6 linked regions of the Homo sapiens genome follow. The protein of the gene in region 1 purifies or fractionates together with the protein of each later gene. This does not show direct contact. Each region holds a gene or a part of one and is shown in the gene's direction. Other genes may lie near its edges.

Region 1 (3,500 bases):
GATACTAATACACAGGTTGGCTGGGAGGGAATGGAGATTGACACTGGGGGTGTGTGAAGTGATGAGGCCCGAGTTAGAGTTGTGGAGGGTAGGCTAAGGAGAGGAAAGAGTGAAAAAGAGACTGTGAAGGAAAAATGGAAATTAATGAGGGGTGGATGTGGGAGATGAAGAAGGGTGATGAGTCAACTACAACTGTGACACGTTGTGCCTGGGTGTCTGAGACATTGAGTGAAATAAAGAAGTTAGGAAGCTTTCCTCATTTTGGGGAAATATGATGAGTATAATTTGCGATGTGTTGGATTTAAAGTGGCAATGAAATGTCCAAATGAAGGCTGTCCTGGGTGTGAGCTGGAGTAAAGATGGGGGTAGGTTTGGAAATGCAGTTTTGCAATTCATGGCCTAGATGTGGTAGCTGTAGCCAAGAGAATTAATAAGCTCTCTGAGGACTAAAGTTTAGGGAAAGAGCAGAAGGGCAAAGAAAATGGTACTGATAAACCTAAACACGTCTAAACCTAAACATGTCTCCTATCTTGTAAACACCATCCTAGGCACTGAGATGGAGGTAAGGGAGACAAGGAACCCACGAGGAGCGTATGGGTCTAGTGGGAGGAGACAGATATGTAAATATATAGATAGAATGAAGTGTGATAGATGCTGTGATAGAAGTATGCAGCAGGGAGAGTGGGAGCCCAAGGGTCAGTTCTGCCTTGGGCATGCTGAGGTTGGAAAGAGCCTCCCTGAGGAGTTAGCATTTGAGCTGAGTCTTGAAAGATGAATTAAGGATATACTCTACAGATGACAAGAATTACATTCCAGTCTGAGAAAATACCATGAACAAAAGCTTAAAGGAATGAAGGCCAGACTTCTTCAGGTAACTTTTACTTAATCATTATGGCTGGAGGATGGGATGGAGGGCAGGCTGAAGAGGTAGGCAACGCTGGATCATACAGAGTTTTTATCTTTTTTTTTTTTTTTTTGAGACAGAGTCTTGCTCTGTCACCCAGGCTGGAGTGCAGTGGCACAATCTCAGCTCACTGCAAGCTCCGCCTCCCGGGTTCACGCCATTCTCCTGCCTCAGCCTCCCGAGTTGCTGGGACTACAGGCGCCCGCCACCATGCCCGGCTAATTTTTTGTATTTTTAGTGGAGGCGGGGTTTCACCATGTTAGCCAGGATGGTCTTGATCTCCTGACCTCGCGATCCGCCCGCCTCGGCCTCCCAAAGTGCTGGGATTACAGGCGAGAGCCACCACGCCCGGCCTGGAGCTTTATCTTATACTGCAGTATATCAGGAGCCATTTAATACGTTTCACATCCTAGAAAGATTATGTCAGTGGTGTGTAGGGTGGATTGGAGATGGAGAAAGCAGAATTCCTTTCAATAACTTCATTATACTGAACACATTTATTGAGAGTGATCATATTTACAGATTCATGGAATCAGACAACTGGCGGGGCTGCGATGCTTTCTTAGTTTTCCTCATTCATTTTCAAATAGAATACCTGAGGTTTACTCAGGATCACAGAAGTGGTTCTGTGATAGCTTAGTCTAGAATTCAGTCTTCAGCATGTACTAGGTGATTAATAAAGGTGAATTCACCTCTCTCTTCTCTCCCAAGTCCCATTTCAGTGTTTGTGTCATTCTGCCACATTGCATTGTACTAGCAGATAGAAGGACTTAACATCATTCCATTCTACCGTCTTTTTTTAACCAGTCCAAAGTGAATAGAGGTATTTTCCTAGGTCTGACTGAGAAAGATGTTCCCTGAGAGTACCATTGGGAAGAGGGGCAGTTCGGTGCCCTGGACTGGGCTGAATGAGGTGTTAGGATTTTTCAGCTGTAGTGATTCAGATGTAGAAGAATGTCAAGGTATTTGTTTTGTTGCATGTCTTTATCTCTGCCACTAAGCTCCCTTTAAGTTGTTTTCTTTTAAACTTAGTTTTATTTGTGCCACTGAAACTTGTTAAATAAGCTATGATAAATTGGGCACTGATTAAAAGTATATTTATCTAAAAAAAAAAGAATATCTAAACAAAATTTAGAAAAGTTCAGGGAAAAAACCCAAACAGAAACAATTTTGAGCCTACATCCCAAATTTGATGGACATTAACATTTTGTCATATTTGTTTTAGATGTCTTACTCTCTTTAAAATATTAAATACTCAGATTCTGCATCTTCCCTGTATTTTCATTTTCATTGGATTTTTGTGGAGGGAAATTGTTTGGTTTTAAAGTGCTAAGTGAGAGTTTGGATTTTGTGTTTTAGTCACTTTTGCTGGAGGAGAACAGAACAGGGTAGAGGGCATCCTCTAAGTCCTTAGATTCCCCTGGGAGAAATTGGGACTTAAGGACGTGTGGAAGGATGGATACCTTCCATTGATAGGCCTTCCTCAAAACTTGTCTGAGTTGTGATTTTTAAATTCTTTTCTCTGGGCTCTGTCAGCATCTTCCCCAGAGAAGGGCCTTGGTTTGGAAGCTGTCCACTTAAGCAGAGCTGCCAAGTCTTAATTCTTTCTCAAGTGGGCAAGGGTACATTTTGTTTTTGTTTGTGAGTATTTGGGAGAAGGAAGGGGTGGGTAGAAAGGAGGCACAGAATAGCTACTCACAGTGAGTACTTATCTGAATTCCTGTGTAACTGGAAGCTTTCTTGGCTGTTTTAGGGGAGATAACTTGGTTACACTAGCATTTAAATTATGTGGGAAGGTGGTTTTTCACTCCCCTCTGCTATCTGATTTGAGATGGCAATAAACCTTCTTGTCCATTTTTGTCAGTCCTCACTCTACCCTGTTCTAAGCGCTGCTGTTTGAGGGATGTGAAGGCTCCTCTTCAGTCTAAAACTGAACAAGTCAGATATCTCCTTATAGTTTTGGGAAACCATTCTGCTCCTGACTGTTTTTGTGTTGACTCCTCTATTCATCAAATCACCTGGCCCTTTATTAATTTTACAATTTTGCATAATGAGATATTTCAAACATTTAGAAAAGTTCAGGGGAAAAACTCAGGCAATTTTGAGTCTACAACCCCAACTTGATGGACATTAACATTTTGTCATATTTGTTAGATGTCTTACTCCCTTTAAAATATTAAATGTTATAGATATAGCTGAAGTTCCACCCTGCATCCTTTCCTCCTTCCTCTTTCTCAAGAAATGACTACTGGCCTGAATTGATGTGTTCATTCCTTCATGTTTTATACTTCCTCTGCCCCGCCACATCTTTATTTATTTATTTATTTATTATTTATTTATTTTTGAGATGGAGTCTTGCTCTGTCACCCAGGCTGGAGTGCAGTGGCACGATCTCTGCTCACTGCAACCTCTGCCTCCCGGGTTCAAGCGATTCTCTTGCCTCAGCCTCCCGAGCAGCTGGGATTACAGGTGCGTGCCACAGTGCCCAGGTAATTTTTGTATTTTTAGTAGAGACGGAGTTTTGCCCTATTGACCAGGCTGGTCTTGAACTCCTGACCTCAAGTGATCTGCCCACATTGGCCTCCTAAAGTGCTGG
Region 2 (3,500 bases), on another chromosome or scaffold:
CTGAGGCCGTGGTCTGCTCTTGACCAGTAAGCTGAGAAGCTGGGGAGAGACAGTGCGGGAAGGAGGCATTGGTGGGGAGGTGACTGCCAGACAGGGGTTGTCTGGAAAGGAGGGGAAGGAGAGGCGCCAGAGGGGATCTCTGTAAAATGTCTCTCCCCTAAGTGCTAAATTCCTATTTTTTCTCCTCTCTGCTAATCCAACTCCTTTTGCTTTAGGTGAGAATAGCCAAGAGTTCAGCCCCACCTTTTCAGAACGCATTTTCATCGCTGGGTCCAAACAGTACAGGTAAGCAGGGGAGACAAGCCTGAGTGGGAAGGTGGGGACTGGACCCAGCGCCCTCGTCCCCAGCACTTGCCTGGGCCGCTCCTGCTGACCCCGGGCTCCCTCCCTCAGCACCTGTGGTTCAGCTCCTGGAACTCACCCAGGCTTTCCTGGCTGAGCCGCTCTCTCAGCCAAATAAGCTTTTCAAAGGCTTTTCACAGCTTGTGGCTGACTGCCTCTGGGCCACATCAACTTGACATTTTATTTTTATTCTCCTCAGAGTCCTTAATGCACCCCCTCGTTTCCCATCAACAGGGAGGGTGCTGGGAACAGAAGCTGCTTCCCACTCTTGCGTGACCGTGAGCGCAGGCCGGGTTGGTGGGGGGGGCCTTCCACTGTCCTCTATGGGAGAAACCTGCTGGTGCCTTTTCTCCTGGGAGATGCACCGAGTAGGGATGCGGGCGGTAGAAAAGGAGGGGACAGATAGACTTGGTGGCCCGGTAGAAAGGAAGCCAGGGTGGGGCTGAGTCTGTTCCCAGGCTCTGCATTCCCCCACAGATGATTTTTTGAAACAAGAGTTCAAGTGCTGGGCACAATGGCTCTCACCTATAATCCCAGCACTTTCTGAGGCCGAGGCAGGTGGATCACGAGGTCAGGAGATCGAGACCATCCTGGCCAACATGGTGAAACCCCGTCTCTGCTAAAAATACAAAAATTCCCTGGGCATGGTAGCGCATGCCTGTAACCTCAGCTACTCAGGAGGCTGAGGCAGGAGAATCGCTTGAATCCAGGAGTCGAAGGTTGCAGTGAGCCGAGATTGTGCCACTGCACTCCAGCCTGGTGACAGAGTAAGATTCTGTCTCAAAAAAAAAAAAAAAAACAAGAGTTCAAGCTAGAAACAGCTCCTTCCCCTATCACCAGGCAGGTTTTGTATCATTGGAGTTTGGAACCTGCTAGTGATAAGATTGTGGGGAGGGCAGCTGGCTGCCTTGGAACCAAGAAATGCTCAGTTTGGTGGGATTCCTTCTGCTGTCCTGGGTGCCTTTTGGCCCAGGGTAGGAGCCTCTGATAGACACACTTCTTTCAGCTGTCCAAGAGAAGCCTGTAGGCCTCCAGTGGTCCCCAGGACTGCCATGAGTCTGCCTTCTCCATGGGGGCAGAAGATGAGGCCAAGGGAGGGTGGCTGAGGCCATGATCTGCTCCACAGCTGTTCTGCAGCAACCCATCTGTTGCCGGGTCCTTTAATACTTGGCAGGGATCCCAGTCCAGTTAGAGCCATGGCAGTGATGAGCCCCGAGGCCAGCAGAGAAGGGCAGGCTCCCCAGTACCAGGCAGCAGCCCAGGCTGTTCACCTTCAACAGCAGCCAGGGACCCCCAGGAACTGTGAGAATGGAGGTGACCAGCCTTACCTGTTCCTCCATCCGGAGGCAACAGAAACAAGCTCTGCTCAGTCAGAGCTGAGAGGCCTGCCATGAGCGTGGCCCCCTCCTAGGAACTCTCCAGGGGCAGCTCACCTTGGAGAGCAGTGAGCGAACCGTGTCTGCTCCCCTGACTCTCCCCAAGAAGTGCTGAGTCTGTACCCCATCACCATAGTAACAAGCACAGCTTCTCGGCAGCTTGCCTTGGGGCCAGACACTGAGCTGGGCTTTTTAAATGAACTAAATTATTGAAACTTCATTTCCACCCTGTATGGCAGAAAATACCAAACCCATTTTATAAGTGAGATAAGTGAGAAAACAGGTTCCTTGGGATTTAGAAACCTTGCCGCATTCACACAAGGAATGGCAACCTGGGATTTGACCTTGGATCTGCAGGAGTCCAGATACAAGTGTCTGGACCAGTCCATCTTCCTGCTTCCTCGTGCTCAATATGCAAATCTGTCCCTTTTGTGACAGCCAGTCCGAGAGTCTTGATCAGATCCCCAACAATGTGGCCCATGCTACAGAGGGCAAAATGGCCCGTGTGTGTTGGAAGGGAAAGCGTCGCAGCAAAGCCCGGAAGAAACGGAAGAAGAAGAGCTCAAAGTCCCTGGCTCATGCAGGAGTGGCCTTGGCCAAACCCCTCCCCAGGACCCCTGAGCAGGAGAGCTGCACCATCCCAGTGCAGGTGAGACCCTCCACCCACTGCCCAGACCCCAGGTTCATGGGGCCTTGAAATTGGAGCCTGTCCCTGGGCCCTGGCCCTCTGTGCTGATAGCTGTGTTTCCCCCCGCAGGAGGATGAGTCTCCACTCGGCGCCCCATATGTTAGAAACACCCCGCAGTTCACCAAGCCTCTGAAGGAACCAGGCCTTGGGCAACTCTGTTTTAAGCAGCTTGGCGAGGGCCTACGGCCGGCTCTGCCTCGATCAGAACTCCACAAACTGATCAGCCCCTTGCAATGTCTGAACCACGTGTGGAAACTGCACCACCCCCAGGACGGAGGCCCCCTGCCCCTGCCCACGCACCCCTTCCCCTATAGCAGACTGCCTCATCCCTTCCCATTCCACCCTCTCCAGCCCTGGAAACCTCACCCTCTGGAGTCCTTCCTGGGCAAACTGGCCTGTGTAGACAGCCAGAAACCCTTGCCTGACCCACACCTGAGCAAACTGGCCTGTGTAGACAGTCCAAAGCCCCTGCCTGGCCCACACCTGGAGCCCAGCTGCCTGTCTCGTGGTGCCCATGAGAAGTTTTCTGTGGAGGAATACCTAGTGCATGCTCTGCAAGGCAGCGTGAGCTCAGGCCAGGCCCACAGCCTGACCAGCCTGGCCAAGACCTGGGCAGCAAGGGGCTCCAGATCCCGGGAGCCCAGCCCCAAAACTGAGGACAACGAGGGTGTCCTGCTCACTGAGGTAACTAATCCCCCGGCACCTGTATATGTCCCTCTACCAGCAACCTGGGGGATGCTTTTCTCTCTTTATCAGAGTCACTCTTGCCTGTGGTGACAAATCAAACAGTAGGACAGTGCTCATTGTGGATGAAAAGTATCATCTCTTATTCCGCCAATCTCACTTCTCACAGCCTTTTTAGCGTCTTCTGTTCTGAGTTCTTCTGGTTGGTCACCTCCTGCTTGCTGAATGTGGGCACTGCATTAATAGTACACATGCTGAGGACAAGGGGAATCAGCCAGGAGCCACTGGAGATGTTATCATGGCCCCCAGAGACGGAAGATGAGGATGGGACCTGTTTTCACCACCCACCTCCTTCCCTTTTTCCTCTTGTTAACTTCCCAAATAATTTTATAACTTTAAATGATTTTATC
Region 3 (3,500 bases), on another chromosome or scaffold:
TTTTTTTCTTTTTGAGACGGATTCTCTCTTTGTTGCCAGGCTGGAGTGCAGTGGCACAATCTCTGCTCACTGAAACCTCTGCATCCCAGGTTCAAGTGATTCTCCTGCCTCAGCCTCCCGAGTAGCTGGGACTATAGGCGCCCGCCACCACGCCCGGCTAATTTTTTTATTTTTAGTAGAGATGGGGTTTCACCATGGTGGCCAGGATGGTCTCAATCTCTTGACCTCGTCATCCACCCGCCTCAGCCTCCCAAAGTGTTGGGATTACAGGCGTGAGCCACCGTACCCAGCCTAGTTCCTACTTATAAGTGAGAACATGCAATATTTGGTTTTCTGTTCCTGCATTAAATCGCTTAGGATCATAGCCTCCAGCTCAACAATCTTTAAAAGTGAAAATTTGGCCAGGCGCGATAACTCATGCTTGTAATCACAGCACTTTGGGAGGCCAAGGTGAGTGGATCACCTGACGTCGGGAGTTCCAGACCAGCCTGACCCCGCCTCTACTAGCAATACAAAATTAGCTGGGTGCAGTAGTACATGCCTATAATCCCAGCTACTCGGGAGGCTGAGGCAGGAGAATCACTTGAACCCAGGAGGCAGAGCTTGCGGTGAGCCAAGATCGTGCCATTACACTCCAACCTGGGCAACAAAAGTGAAACTCTGTCTCAAAAAAAAAAAAAAAGTGAAAATTTACATGCGTGTATATGTAAGTAAATATTAATTGTGCTATATACATAAAATTTGTGTACTTTAGAAAGTAATATCTCCAATTTTAAAAATGTGAATGAGACCGGGCATAGCGGCTGACAATTGTAATCCCAGCACTTTGGGAGGCCAAGGTGGGCAGATTGCTTGAGCCCGTAAGTTCTAGGCCAGCCTGGGCAACATAGCAAAATCCTGGTCTCTACTACTAAAAATACGAAAAAAAAAAAAAAAATCGCCAGGCGCAATGGCTCATGCCTGTAATCCCATCACTCTGGGAGGCCAAGGTGGGTGGATCACCTGAGGTCAGGAGTTCGAGACTAGCCTGGCCAATATGGTAAACCCCATCTCTACTAAAAATACAAAAAAAGTAGCTGGGCGTGGTGGCAGGCACCTGTAATCTCAGCTACTTGGGAGGCTGCAGCAGGAGAATCGCTTGAACCCAGGAGGCAGAGGTTGCAGTGAGCCGAGATCGTACCATTGTACTCCAGCCTGGGCAACAAGAGTGAAACTCCATCTCAAAAAAAAAAAAAAAATTAGCTGGGCGTGGTGGTGTATGCCTGTAGTCCCAGCTACTTGGAGGCTGAGACAGGAGGATCACCTGAGCCTGGGAAGGTCAAGGCTGCAGTGAGCTGTGATCCAGCCACTGCACGCTATCCTGGGTGACACAGTGAGACCCTGTCTCAAAAAAAGAAAAAGAAATGTGATTGATCAGCTCTTTGCCTAAAACTTAGCTAACTGTGTGCTTTGCAGACATTGTCTGACTCATAGTCTTGAGAATGTTTCTCTCATACAAACATTGAAATGAGATGCGTTTATTCACAGCACATCAGGAACAGAAATGGGACTAAGACCTAGGTTTCTAGACCCAAAAGTCTGAAAAACGGGCGTGGTTTTAGTGTAACATCAATGCTTTGAGAATCAAAGTACATACTCAAACTTTCCTAAGAAATTTCAACTGGAAGGGACTGGATTTTCTCCAAATTCAACAAAATGATGGATGACAAAACCAGTTTCTTATTGGCTAGGGTCTAGGCTAGATCATCTCCAAGATTCTTCCCAACTCTAAAATTTTATTCTATGAGATAGTGGTCTCAGATGAGTTTGTTTCTAGACCGTCCTATGGGATAAAGGTTTCTCTAGATGTTCTTCAAGGGCTTGGGTTGGGGGTGCTTCTCATGAACTCTTTCATGTCATTCCCTGTGTCATAACCCTCAGGTTGAGGAGCCTTCGAGACCATCAGCGTCCTGGCAGAACTCTGTGTCTGAGCGGCCACCCTACTCTTACATGGCCATGATACAATTCGCCATCAACAGCACTGAGAGGAAGCGCATGACTTTGAAAGACATCTATACGTGGATTGAGGACCACTTTCCCTACTTTAAGCACATTGCCAAGCCAGGCTGGAAGGTAATGTGTCCCACAGCAACCAAAATCAAGGTCAGCCCAGCCTGACAGTCTCTCCAGTGCTGTACTGCAACTTGTATCTGGGACAGCAGTTAAGTGCAAAGGACACTAGAATGATAAACAAATGTATCTTTTAGATTGTGACTCAATCTTATTGAATCCAGGCAAAATCATTAAGAAGAGCTCCTTAACTACTTCATGTGTTACTACCTAAAGTCCATGGAGGGTCTTCAATGTAGCACTCAAGCCCACTTTTCTGCTACACTCAACAGCCGTCCTAGATGCCAGCAGCTAGAGTGGCTAAGTAGTTTTATGAAAATGTCTTGATTAAAAAAAAAAATGCTGTCTGTGAGCCTCATGACCCAAGATGTCATCTCCTGTAGCGTCACATAGCATTTCTAGTGGGCAGGGGTTTTCCTTTCACTTCATTCATGGAAAGACCGAGATGCCTGTGAGTCAACATAGCTCACGCAGTTGGTCGGTGTCAGAGCCACAAATGAGGTCTTCTGACGGGTGCTCAATTCCAAGTCAAGTGTGCTTTGTTTTCCTCATGGTAGAACTCTTTCTTTTTTTTTTTTTTTTTTTTGAGACAGAGTCTCGCTCTGTCACCCAGGCTGGAGTGCAATGGCAGATCTCAGGTCACTGCAACCTCCTCCGCCTCCAAGGTTCAAGCGATTCTCCTGCCTCAGCCTCCCGAGTAGCTGGGACTACAGGCATGCGCCACCACGCCTGGCTAATTTTTTTGTATTTTTAGTAGAGACAGTGTTTCACCATGTTGGTCAGGCTGGTCTCGAACTCCTAACCTCAAATGATCCACCCGTCTCGACCTCCCAAAGTGCTGGGATTACAGGCATGAGCCACCACACCTGGCCCCTCATGGTAGAACTATGTTTTTTTTTTTTTTGAGATGGAGTCTCGCTCTGTCACCCAGGCTGGAGTGCAGTGGCGCGATCTCGGCTCACTGCAAGCTCCGCCTCCTGGGTTCACGCCATTCTCCTGCCTCAGCTTCCCGAGTAGCTGGGACTACAGGCGCCCGCCACTACGCCTGGCTAATTCATGGTAGAACTTTTAATTTTACTCCCTTCCATCAGCTTACTTTCCTAGTTTTTTGTTTGTTTGTTTTTTGAGACAGGGTCTCACCCTGTTGCCTGGGCTGGAGTGCAGCCTCAGCCCCCTGGGCTCAAGCTCTTCCCTCCTCAACATCCCAAGTAGCTGGGATAACAGGTGCACCACCACAGTCCGCTAATTTTTTTTTTGTAGAGACAGTTGCCCAGGCTGGTTACTATGTTGCCCAGGCTGGTCTGAACTCCTAGTCTCAAGCACTCCTCCTGCCTTAGCCTCTCAGTGCACTGTGATTACAGGCGTGAGCCACCACACCCAGCCTTAATTTC
Region 4 (3,500 bases), on another chromosome or scaffold:
TGTGTATCTTGTTTTGATTGAGTAGAGTGTTTTATAGACATCTGTCCAGTCTAGTTGTTAATAGTGTTGTTCAAGTCTACTACTTTCTTGTTGATGTTCTTTCTAGATTTTTTTGGTATGAATTCCTATAGGTTAAGGAAACTATGCTTTGCAGTGTGGTTTTCATTGCAAGTATTTTCTCCTACTTTGTTTTCATCTTAGTCAAGATTTCTTCCATGCAGTTTTCTTCCTAATTTTCATATAGTTAACTTTATGCAACTTTTTAGTTTCTCGTGAGACTGAGAAGGTCCTTTCTCTCTCCAAACTTGTAAGAAAAATTTCTCATGCAGTACTTGTGTGATTTCATACTTTACAGTTGACACCTTGATAGACCTAGTCTCTATTTCCTTATAGGGAGAGCATAAGCAAGAAGCTTTATTATTTTTCAGCAGTAACCTTAGTTGCCCCAGCGCCATTACTGAATAATCATATTTTTATCATCGATAGTGTCATCATCATAACACATCAGCAAGGAAGTTTTTCCTTCACAGTGGCACGGTGGCTCACTCCTGTAATCCCAGCACTTTGGGAGGCCGAGGCAGGTGGATCATGAGGTCAGGAGATCGAGACCATCCTGGTGAAACCTAGTGAAACCCCGTCTCTACTAAAAATACAAAAAATTAGCCAGGCGTGGTGGCACGCTCCTGTAGTCCCAGCTACTCGGGAGGCTGAGGCAGGAGAATCGCTTGAACCCAGGAGGCGGAGGTTACAGTGAGCCAAGATCACGCCACTGAACTCCAGCCTGGTGAGAGAGCGAGACTCCATCTCAAAAAAAAAAAAAAGCCTTTATTATTTTTCAGTAGTAACCTTAGTTGCCCCAGCACTATTACTCAATAACCACATTTTTATAATTGGTAGTGTCGTCATCGTAACACATTATCAAGGAAGTTTTTTTTCCACAGTTTGGGTTTTCTAAGAGTATCTTTCAATATCAGTAAATATGAATCAGAGGAGAGGGATAAATAAATGGGCACTGAAAGGGGAGAGTGAGGTCACCTGAAGGGGCGAAGCCCTGGAGGTGAAGGTCGAGCCTCCAGACATGGGCTCCCGCTGGCGACAGCTCCTGCAGGCTGTCACCTCAGTGCCTGGAGACCCTCTGCAATCCAGGGCAGCATGAGGTAGGCCTTCTTTCTGTGGATCATTCTTTGACTCTGTATAGGGAGGACCCTTTTTCCTTCCATTTTCCTCCCATGGCAGGTGGCATGGGCTGTATCTGAAGCCTTCCCCTCATCGCTGTATTGTTTCTGCGCCTGTTTGTACCTTCTACTGACCAAGAGCTCACTGAGGGCAGGGATTAGGACTTTTTGTGAGTTTCCAGGGATGCAGGTGGCATTGCCCTGGTCTCTAGGCCTATGTGGCCATTAATCACTTAAAACACAGCCACTTTGAATTGAGATGTGCAGTGAGTGAAAAATACACTCTGGGTTTCGAACACTTAGTATTCAAAATAAAAGAAAATATCTCAATGTTTTATCTTGTTTACATGTTGAAATGCTAATGTTTTGGATATTTTAGGTCCAAAAAGTACATTGTTAAAATTAATTTGACCTCATTCTCTTTTTACTATTTTAATATGGCTCTCATAGAATTTGAATTTTGCATGTGGTTTGTATTGTATTTCTGTCAGCAGCGCCAGTCAGAGGTGTGTATAGATGCAGAATTGACGACAAGACCAAGCCAAGAAGATGGGATTTCTCTGTCTGGGGTCTACTGATGGCCAAAAGAAGAGTTTCCTAGCCACCGCCACGATCCTCTGGGAACTCTGTGGCAATTCATTCATTGGCTTTTCTCTCCCTTCCCAGGATCTCATAGATCAGAACATCCTGGAGCCTGTAACCGGTGCACAGAGGGTGTGGGTTACACCAATGCTTCCAACAATTTGTTTGCTTGCCTCCCATGTACAGCTTGTAAATCAGGTACAGAATGTGTGGACCTCTTGTCCAGAGGTGGAGTGAGGGGCAGTGAGGTGGGAGTGGTAGCCAATGTGAGTCAGGGAACCAAGTTCCAGCCCAACTTGGTCTTCATCATACCCTGTTCCATGGTTATGTCTTAGGTCCATAAAATGAAACAGAAAGAAATCATTTTTATAATGCATGCCACCTGGTAGTGCAAACTATCAGCTCCAAGAGGGTAGGGGCATCATTACAGCACAAAGAAGGCCTGGCTGAGTGGACAGGGCTGAGTTTCAGCGGTGGTACGGGTCTGCTCTGGGGCCACGCTCCCCCTGGGCTGTGTGCTCCTGGCAGGTTCTCAGGCTCACTCAGCCTTCAGTTTCTCAGGCGCCTCCCTCTTCCTCAGCAGGCTGGGTTTTTGGGAAGTCACCCAAGGGCTCCTCTTCTTGCAGACTCTCTCACATACCATGTGCCTCCTTTGCTACTGACCATGCGATCTAAATGGTGCTTTTTCCCTAATCTGATGTAATAAATAATGAATCATGGTCCTTTTGTATGACTCCAAGTGTTGGTGACAGCTGAAGGGTGGGTGTCCTGTGTGAGCCCGAGTGTGCTGGTGCAGAATCTGGCCCTCAGAACTCCTTGGCAAACTGAGTTGAGCTGAGCTGAGGGGGAGGGAGTTGGGGTGGTGAGGAAAGGTCAAGGGACACGTCAGGGAAACACATTCCCAAAACCTTGTACTCTGTCATCAGATGAAGAAGAGAGAAGTCCCTGCACCACGACCAGGAACACAGCATGTCAGTGCAAACCAGGAACTTTCCGGAATGACAATTCTGCTGAGATGTGCCGGAAGTGCAGCAGAGGGTGAGACAACAGCCAAGGGGCTCCCAGCAGCCTCAAAGAACCCACAGAAGCAAGGAACCCTAAAAAGACCCGAGTCTCCTTGTACCCGTATCTATCAGCCCTGACCCCATGGTGCCTCCACCCCCATAGGTGTCCCTGAGCCTGTGGCGTCTCCTGAGCCTGCAACCTGCCCCTCCTGGTCCATCTGCCTGTCCCCACCCCTGTCCCCTGCAGTGGCCCCTTCTCACCCCTCCCCAGCACTAGTCCCCTTGGCCAGGCTGACTTGTTCACTAGGCACAGGAGGCCATGACTTAGGGCCCACAACAGAGGTACATGAAATATTTTATCTTGAAATCATAAGAAAATAATGGTATAGAATCCAGCTGGGGTTATATTTATATTTAAACAAATTGAGTCATAAAATGTAATTTTTAATATTTGCTTTTAATTCAAGAAGACAGAAATGCCCACAGCCCGCAAAAATCATAATAAGGCCATGGGTGGAGCTCCTTCAAGTTCCCATGAGGACCTGAGCCCACCCAGCCAGCCTCACCCCTGGCCCCTGATTTCTCAATAAGTCCTGTCTTTTTCCTATTTTGGTTTTGGAAGCAAAGAGTAATTGCTCTTCTCTGGTCCTCCAGTGTTTGCTGTGATTGAGAGGAACCAGCAGACAGGTGGGGGCGAGGGCTCACTTGTACTGTGGGTTAACTGGAGGAAGGGGCTCAG
Region 5 (3,500 bases), on another chromosome or scaffold:
TGTTGTCATCTGATCCAAATATGCTGAGTAATGAAGAAGCAGGACATCATGTAAGGGACATAGTATATTTTCATTCTGAGAATACACTGTTTAGAAGTTCTCCATGGTAATGGTAGCACAGTCATCTTGGGGAAAGGTGGTAGTTCTTAGAAGTTATCATGTAAGGATTCTTGATTTCTTACTGGAGTTTATAGGGCTAAAGGGTTGTGATGCCCAGAAACAGAGCCTTTAACTGCTAATTTTTACTATTTTCTTTATTTTAGTTTGAACAAATGCTTAAATTGTCACAGCGATCCAAGGATGAGCTCTTTAGTATTGCCCTTTATAATTGGCTAATACAAGTCGACCTTGCAGATAAGCTGCTACAGGTAAATCTTTTTTTATTGCAGTTGTGTTAATTATTCTTAAGGAGCATAACTCAATGATTTAAGCACATATATAGATGTAAAAAATTCAGTTTCTCATCCCATGCCTGCTATTAGATGTTAGTATAAAGCTGAGTAATGCAGTATCTTTTCCTAAGGGGCAAAGTAGGCTACTGCTCCAATTTTCTTGTTAATTCGAAGCTGATTGGGATAGTTTGTATTGCGGGGTAGAAATCACTGGATTATGAATATGAGTCCTGTAGGTCATCTTATCTTAACTCTGCTGTTAAGTCACTGTGACTTCAGATATGTCCTTTTACCTACCCTAAGTTTCAGTGTTCCTCAATCTGTTTAATGAATACATAGCATTTGATAATTTCAATAATGCCTTTGAGCTCAATGTCTAGGAATCAATAGCTGTGTTATCAAAGTTTATTTAAAAATTTGTAATTTTATAGTAAATTTCCCTTTTTTTTTTTTTTTTTTTTTTTTGAGATGGAGTCTGGCTCTGTTGCCCAGGCTGGAGTGCAGTGGCATGATCTCAGCTCACTGCAACCTCCGCCTCCCGGGTTCCAGCAATCCTCCTGCTTCAGCCTCCCAAGTAGCTGGGATTACAGGCACCCGCCACCACGCACAGCTAATTTTTATATCTTTTTAGTAGAGACGGGGTTTTACCATGTTGGCCAGGCTGGTCTCAAACTCCTGAGCTCAGGTGATCTGCCCACCTCAGCTTCCCGAAGTGCTGGGATTACAGGCATGAACCACTGTGCCCGGCCAAATTTCCTTTTCTTTTTTGAGGCAGGGTCTCAATCTGTAGCTTAGGCTGAAGTGCAGTGCAATGGCACGATAATGGCTCACTGTAGCCTTGACCTCCCTAGGCTCAGGTGATCCTCACACCTAACCCTCCTGAGTAACTAGAACTATAGGCCCGCACCACCACACCCAGCTAATTTTTTTGTAGAGACGAGGTTTTGCCATATATTGCCCAGGCTGGTCTCAAACTCCTGAGCTCACATGATCTGCCCACCTCGGCCTCCCAAAGTGCGAGGATTACAGACATGAGTCGCCATGCCCAGCCTACTAAATTATTGTTATCAACCTAATAGAATTGTTTTGGAAACTCTTATGCTAACTGTGGTAAAACAAAAATTGTTTATAATAAGAAAATTTGCCCTCTCTTTTATCTGTTAGTATTGGATTATAATTTTGCTTGTTTTCATAAAACAAGGCAAAGTTGTAGTTGACTTAAAAATACTATATTTTCCTTATCAGGAACATTATCTGTAGGTGGTTAGAAAATTTTTCTGAATAACTATATAATTTCTAGGTTGCTTCTCCATTTCTGGAGCCACATCTAGTCCGAATGGCCAAAGTTGATCAAAACAGAGTTCGTTATATGGATTTACTCTGGCGGTATTACGAGAAGAACAGAAGTTTCAGTAATGCTGCTCGTGTACTGTCCAGACTGGCTGACATGCATAGGTATGGCATAATATTCTTATTGTGAAGAATGATTCAAAACTGAGCTATATGTACTTACATTCAGTTTTCTTTAATTTTAGAAGAATCTAAGTTTTAATATACTGACCTAAATTTTTTAAATAGGATGTTACTTTTTAGTCATAAATGTATTTCTTTATGTGTTGTCTAAAATTGTGGATCTCTCTTATGAGAAATCTAAAATAGATTTTTTTTTAAATCTAATGATTTTTTTTCAAGTTTCAGATGGCTTTTTATGTGTGTTTGGTATGAAACAGTACATACTAATTGACGTATTTGTATCATCAATCCTTAAGAAATTGTGTAACTAAAAATAAGCGTTTTCCCTTCTAGCACAGAAATTTCACTTCAGCAGCGACTAGAGTACATTGCTCGAGCCATTCTTAGTGCCAAAAGTTCCACTGCCATTTCATCAATAGCTGCCGATGGTGAATTTCTTCATGAATTAGAAGAAAAAATGGAGGTAAGTGCTAAAGATCTTAAGCTGTGTCCACATTGAGTACTAGCCACATAGTTATTCCACATTCCATTCTTCCCTTGGTAAGTAATAGGTCTGAGAAGTCATTATTATTCTAGTTGCTTTTGTCTGTTTATATTTATTTTTATGTTTAGATATAAATCTTAAAGATTTTTAAGGATGCACTTGGGTCATAAAAACATTGCTATAATTTAGAAGTTTTCTCTTTGGCACTTCGAAAGGTTTTTCCCAGCTGGGTGCAGTGGCTCACGCCTGTAATCCCAGCACTTTGGGAGGCCGAGGCAGCCAGATCATGAGGTCAGAAGTTCGAGACCAGCCTGGCCAATATGGCGAAACCTTGTCTCTACTTAAAAAAATACAAGAATTAGCCGGGGGTGGTGGCACACACCTGTAGTCCCAGCTACTTGGGAGACTGAGGCAGGAGAATTGCTTGAACCCAGGAAGCGGAGGTTGCAGTGAGCTGAGATTGCACCACTGCATTCCAGCCTGGGAGACAGACTGAGACTCTGTCTCAAAAAATAATAATAATAAAAAATAAATGTTTTTCCCAACTGTTTCAACAGCAAGTGGATTACATCACATTCACCATTTATTTTGGAAGCAAATAAGTAGATGTATGAAGTAGAGTAGGCTAAAATTCCCTAACTAAGAGAATCAAAAACATACCATCGTCCAAATACAAAAGTTTGTTTCTTATTCACAAAAATCCAAGGTGAGTCTTCCTGATTGGCAGCTGGCTTTCCTCCGTGTGGTTGATTTAGGAACCCAAGTTCTATTTTCTGGCACTACCATTCCCTAGGGCCTCTGCTTTATCTTCAGCAGAGGGTGGAAGGAAAAGAAAGAACACATTCACTGTCTTAAAAACTATAGCCCTGACATGACACACTACTTCTACTCACATTCCTTTGAAGAGAACTTGGTTGTATGGCCATACCTCCCCTACAGAGGAGGCTGAGCTGTATAGTCTAACCATTTGGCTACAGTCTTGGAAGGTATAAGTATTGGGCAGCAAGGAGTCTGCCACAGTATACTTCCTGTGAAATCTATTATGTTTAGTTGATGTCTGTTATGATAATATTAGCCTATTATGATAGAAATCTTCATTTATACATTATTTTAGCAAACTTAAAGTCAGATAGTAGGATCCGTTCTTTCAA
Region 6 (3,500 bases), on another chromosome or scaffold:
GCCTGAGACAGGGAGAGGGTTTGGGCCTGAGCAGCAGGTCTGGTGATGAGAGGCATCATCAGCCTCTGGGAGTGTAGTCTTGTCTCCTGGGCCGTCCTGCCCAGTGGGAGGCCTCCTTGGCTGCTTTTGTTCCTGGCCTACCCATTGGGTTCCAGCCATCTCCACTGTTGCAGTGGACATACGGGGCAAGGGCCAGCCTGAGGGCACTGGAGTGGTCTCAGCCCTGCAAAGGGTCTTCTCCAAAGGCCCTTCCCTTAGCCTGGGAGGGTTGGGGTTCTCCAGGGCTGGGGTGGTCAGCAGGGTTCAGGAAGCCCTCAAGGCCTTGGAAGAACACAGGGCTCTCGATGTAGGGTGAGAGCTCCTGTCTGGAGCCTGCTCGGAGCTGGGTGGTCCTGCCAGGAGGCCCCTGCAGTCCCCCCTTTTCCTGTAGGGAGTCCTGCTGTCCGTGATGTCAGCCTGACTGCAGGGGACAGTCCTCAGTCCCTAGTGCTGGCTGTGTAGCCTGGGTCAGGCCCCTGCACCTGACACACAGTACCATTGTGCAGAGTGGGCAGAAGCCCACTGGCCTCTCACTGATCAGAATCATGGGTTGGGGGAGTGGGGAGCATGTGGCCCTCTGGGTGTGTTGACACCTGGCACTGAGGAGGTTCTAGCTGCCACTCAGCAATTTCTGGCTTCCGTGAGGAATCTGGCCTCCACCTGGAGCCAGCAATGTCTGTCTGGCACTGGCTGAGCCCCAGGCATCAGCACCCCTCACCACCCGGGGAAAGCTGGTTTCCATTTTACAGAGGACCTGGAGACTTGGAGAAAGGCTTGACACACGTGAGGCTGGTCACGGAGAGGTGGGGGGGTCCCAGTGGGAGCTCATGGCCATCTGGTCACCTCCCTCCTCATCCCTGTGCACTCCCTGAGCCCTGGCCAGAGCCCTGCTCCCAGCTACTTCAGGAGCAGTGGCTTTTGTGGCAATGGGCAAGCAGGCAGTGGCCGGCTCTACCCAGCACACGTGGCACTACCATGGCTGCCTGGCCGGGGGGCAGCCTTTGACCTCTACACTACTGACCACAGGGAACCAATGAGATTCTCCGGATGTACATCGCCCTGACGGGTCTGCAGCATGCCGGCCGCATCCTGACTACCAGGATCCAGTAGGTGCCATTGTCACCGTGTGCTTCTCAGGTCCCATACCTGCCCAGCAGGGGCCAGTCCAGGGCAGTGGGAGGAAAGAGCTGCCTTGACCTGGAGTGGGGGCATGGGGGTGTGGCGCAGCCTTGTGGAGGGGACCTTCCCCTGTGGTAGTGGGGGGCTTGCTGCCCAGGGAAGCCCTCGCTGCCCTGCCCTTATGGCCACAGCACCCTACAGCTTCAGCATAAATACCGTATCCCCCATCTGGTCCCTCACACTAGAGGCAGCTGGTTTTTCAGAACCTGAAGAATGAGAGGTGTCCCTTTAAAGGTGCCAGGCCTCACAGCCAACATAAGCCAGTGTTTCTCTTCTCTGCCCTTCTTCCCCTCATGCTCCCCTCCACCCCCACCCTAGGGGCACAGTAATCCAAAATCACTGCTGGAGGCCAAGTACAGGTTGCTAGTAGCATTTTGTCTCCTTCACAGGAGACAGCTGCTGGGAAGCTGGCTGTGACTCCACCCCTCATGGGGGAGCATATGTGTGGCTCCCCTGAGGAGACTGGCTGCTCTCTGGCAGGTGGTGGGTTTGGGGGGGTTCAGGCTGTAGCCAGGGGCCCAGCATACCCAGGCCAGAGGGGGGCACGGAGCTTCTGGGTGCCGAATGGGCCATGTTGCTGGACAGTGAGCGCCAGCAGCGAGGCCTCCAGTCACAGGACCATGGACTTTCTGCAGTGAGCTTAAACAGGCCAAAGTGAGCACAGTCATGGATACCGTTGGCCGGAGGCTTCGGGACTCCCTGGGCCGAACTGTGGACCTGGGGCTGACAGGCAACCATGGAGTTGTGCACCCCAGTCTTGCGGTGAGTGGGCCTAACAGGCATACCCCCTATTTCAATGCCCTCCTGCCAGATCTCCTTGTGGCAGAAAAGATCTCACTGTGGGGGGTCTGGGCTTCTCCAGGGGAAGTTGGGGAACACCAGCTAGTCCATGACACCCTGGATTGCTTCCCCCAGATGGGGCATCTCTGCCTGGTACCCGGGCTGTGAGACAGGACAGGGCACTGTAGGGATGAGGTGCTGAACTGAGTCCTGTCTTGGTTAATAGGACAGTGCCAACAAGTTTGAGGAGAACACCTACTGCTTCGGCCGGACCGTGGAGACACTGCTGCTCCGCTTTGGCAAGGTAACCAGGCCCTCCCAGGCCTGGGTCGCAAGCGGTCCTCCAATTTGGCCAGCATTCATGAGACTACTTTTTGTCAAGCATCCTTTGGGACCAGGCCTAGAACAGAAATGTTGATCACCCTGGAGGGATGGGGTGGTGAGGTCAGGCTGACTTTGTCAGCCTGGGGCCCACTTAGCTACTCGGATGGGTACCCTTGCTGGGTGAGTTTTCTGCAGTGTTTTTCTGTGCACCTTTCAGGTAGAGAGGCTCCCTAGAATCGGGAGGGCAGCTCCACCTGGGGCCTGAATCTAGGGACCTGATTGGTGGGGCCCTTGCTGCTGAAGGTGGCAGTAGCACAGTAAGCACTGGCTTCTGGTCTCAGCCAAGCTTCTGGGACCTGGTCTTGCCTTAACCCCTCCCTGAATCTAGAGCTCAAAGAGAAGGGAAAACAGAAGGTGGCTGGGAGCCGTTCTCCCACAACCTGAAGAGAAAGGTGTTATTGACTCCACTTTCTCAAGGAACACAGGAGACTAAGACAGGCAAAGATGCAGCCCAGGGAGGGACCATGTGGGGGACTGGTCTAGGTAGTGAGTCCCCACTTGGAGCCTCTGTGATCCCAGACCATCATGGAGGAGCAGCTGGTACTGAAGCGGGTGGCCAACATCCTCATCAACCTGTATGGCATGACGGCCGTGCTGTCGCGGGCCAGCCGCTCCATCCGCATTGGGCTCCGCAACCACGACCACGAGGTGAGCCCAGCCCAGCCTCACACAGGGCCTGGCTGCTGCCATCTGTCCTGCTGCACTTTAATGAAGTTGATTGTTGAGGAGGGTGTGGTCGGGTGTGGGGGAGGCTGTGCAGGTTCACCATGCGGTGGCCGTGGGAGGGTCTGTGCTGCTCAGGAGATGGGGCTGTTCCCTTTCTTCTTCCTGACTGAGAGAAGAGGGGGTGAGTGACAGGGGTTCCTGATCCCAGTGCCCCTACCCCCAGCAAGGGACAGACCCTGCACATTGCCCGCTGTGCTGGAGGGAGGCGGGTGCAGTCTCTGAGGACCCACTGTATACCAGGATCTCTGCCTGCACTTTCCAGAGCACCTGCAGATACCAGGATTGTGACATCTGCCTTTCAGAGGAAACAGGGTCAGAGATGTTGAGTCACTTGCTGTTGGGGAAAGGCTGTTGGATCAGGGCTGGAATTAGAACCCAAGACGGGGTGACTC

The links.
Region 2: the proteins of OTUD7B (region 1) and MAP3K14 purify together in Homo sapiens (affinity purification with western blotting; one study listed by BioGRID). This does not show direct contact.
Region 3: the proteins of OTUD7B (region 1) and FOXM1 purify together in Homo sapiens (affinity purification with western blotting, with the first as the bait; one study listed by BioGRID). This does not show direct contact.
Region 4: the proteins of OTUD7B (region 1) and TNFRSF10A purify together in Homo sapiens (co-immunoprecipitation; one study listed by IntAct). This does not show direct contact.
Region 5: the proteins of OTUD7B (region 1) and NUP155 purify together in Homo sapiens (affinity purification with mass spectrometry; one large-scale study listed by BioGRID and IntAct). This does not show direct contact.
Region 6: the proteins of OTUD7B (region 1) and ACAD9 purify together in Homo sapiens (affinity purification with mass spectrometry; one large-scale study listed by BioGRID and IntAct). This does not show direct contact.

What each region holds. Positions count from the first base shown.
Region 1 is NC_000001.11:150,000,727-150,004,226, reverse strand, and holds part of OTUD7B (OTU domain-containing protein 7B), read left to right. Parts: intron 1-3,500. UniProt on the Homo sapiens protein: Negative regulator of the non-canonical NF-kappa-B pathway that acts by mediating deubiquitination of TRAF3, an inhibitor of the NF-kappa-B pathway, thereby acting as a negative regulator of B-cell responses.
Region 2 is NC_000017.11:45,286,021-45,289,520, reverse strand, and holds part of MAP3K14 (mitogen-activated protein kinase kinase kinase 14), read left to right. Parts: intron 1-215; coding exon 216-285; intron 286-2,156; coding exon 2,157-2,367; intron 2,368-2,475; coding exon 2,476-3,090; intron 3,091-3,500.
Region 3 is NC_000012.12:2,867,175-2,870,674, reverse strand, and holds part of FOXM1 (forkhead box protein M1), read left to right. Parts: intron 1-1,920; coding exon 1,921-2,112; coding exon of another isoform or gene 2,113-2,157; exon of another isoform or gene 2,158-2,461; intron 2,462-3,500. UniProt on the Homo sapiens protein: Transcription factor regulating the expression of cell cycle genes essential for DNA replication and mitosis. Plays a role in the control of cell proliferation. Also plays a role in DNA break repair, participating in the DNA damage checkpoint response.
Region 4 is NC_000008.11:23,201,103-23,204,602, reverse strand, and holds part of TNFRSF10A (tumor necrosis factor receptor superfamily member 10A), read left to right. Parts: intron 1-1,841; coding exon 1,842-1,955; intron 1,956-2,683; coding exon 2,684-2,795; intron 2,796-3,500. UniProt on the Homo sapiens protein: Receptor for the cytotoxic ligand TNFSF10/TRAIL. The adapter molecule FADD recruits caspase-8 to the activated receptor.
Region 5 is NC_000005.10:37,301,607-37,305,106, reverse strand, and holds part of NUP155 (nuclear pore complex protein Nup155), read left to right. Parts: coding exon 1-50; intron 51-263; coding exon 264-368; intron 369-1,692; coding exon 1,693-1,847; intron 1,848-2,198; coding exon 2,199-2,328; intron 2,329-3,500.
Region 6 is NC_000003.12:128,907,120-128,910,619, forward strand, and holds part of ACAD9 (complex I assembly factor ACAD9, mitochondrial), read left to right. Parts: intron 1-1,065; coding exon 1,066-1,145; intron 1,146-1,853; coding exon 1,854-1,980; intron 1,981-2,224; coding exon 2,225-2,302; intron 2,303-2,753; exon of another isoform or gene 2,754-2,901; coding exon 2,902-3,030; exon of another isoform or gene 3,031-3,144; coding exon of another isoform or gene 3,145-3,214; intron 3,215-3,500. UniProt on the Homo sapiens protein: As part of the MCIA complex, primarily participates in the assembly of the mitochondrial complex I and therefore plays a role in oxidative phosphorylation.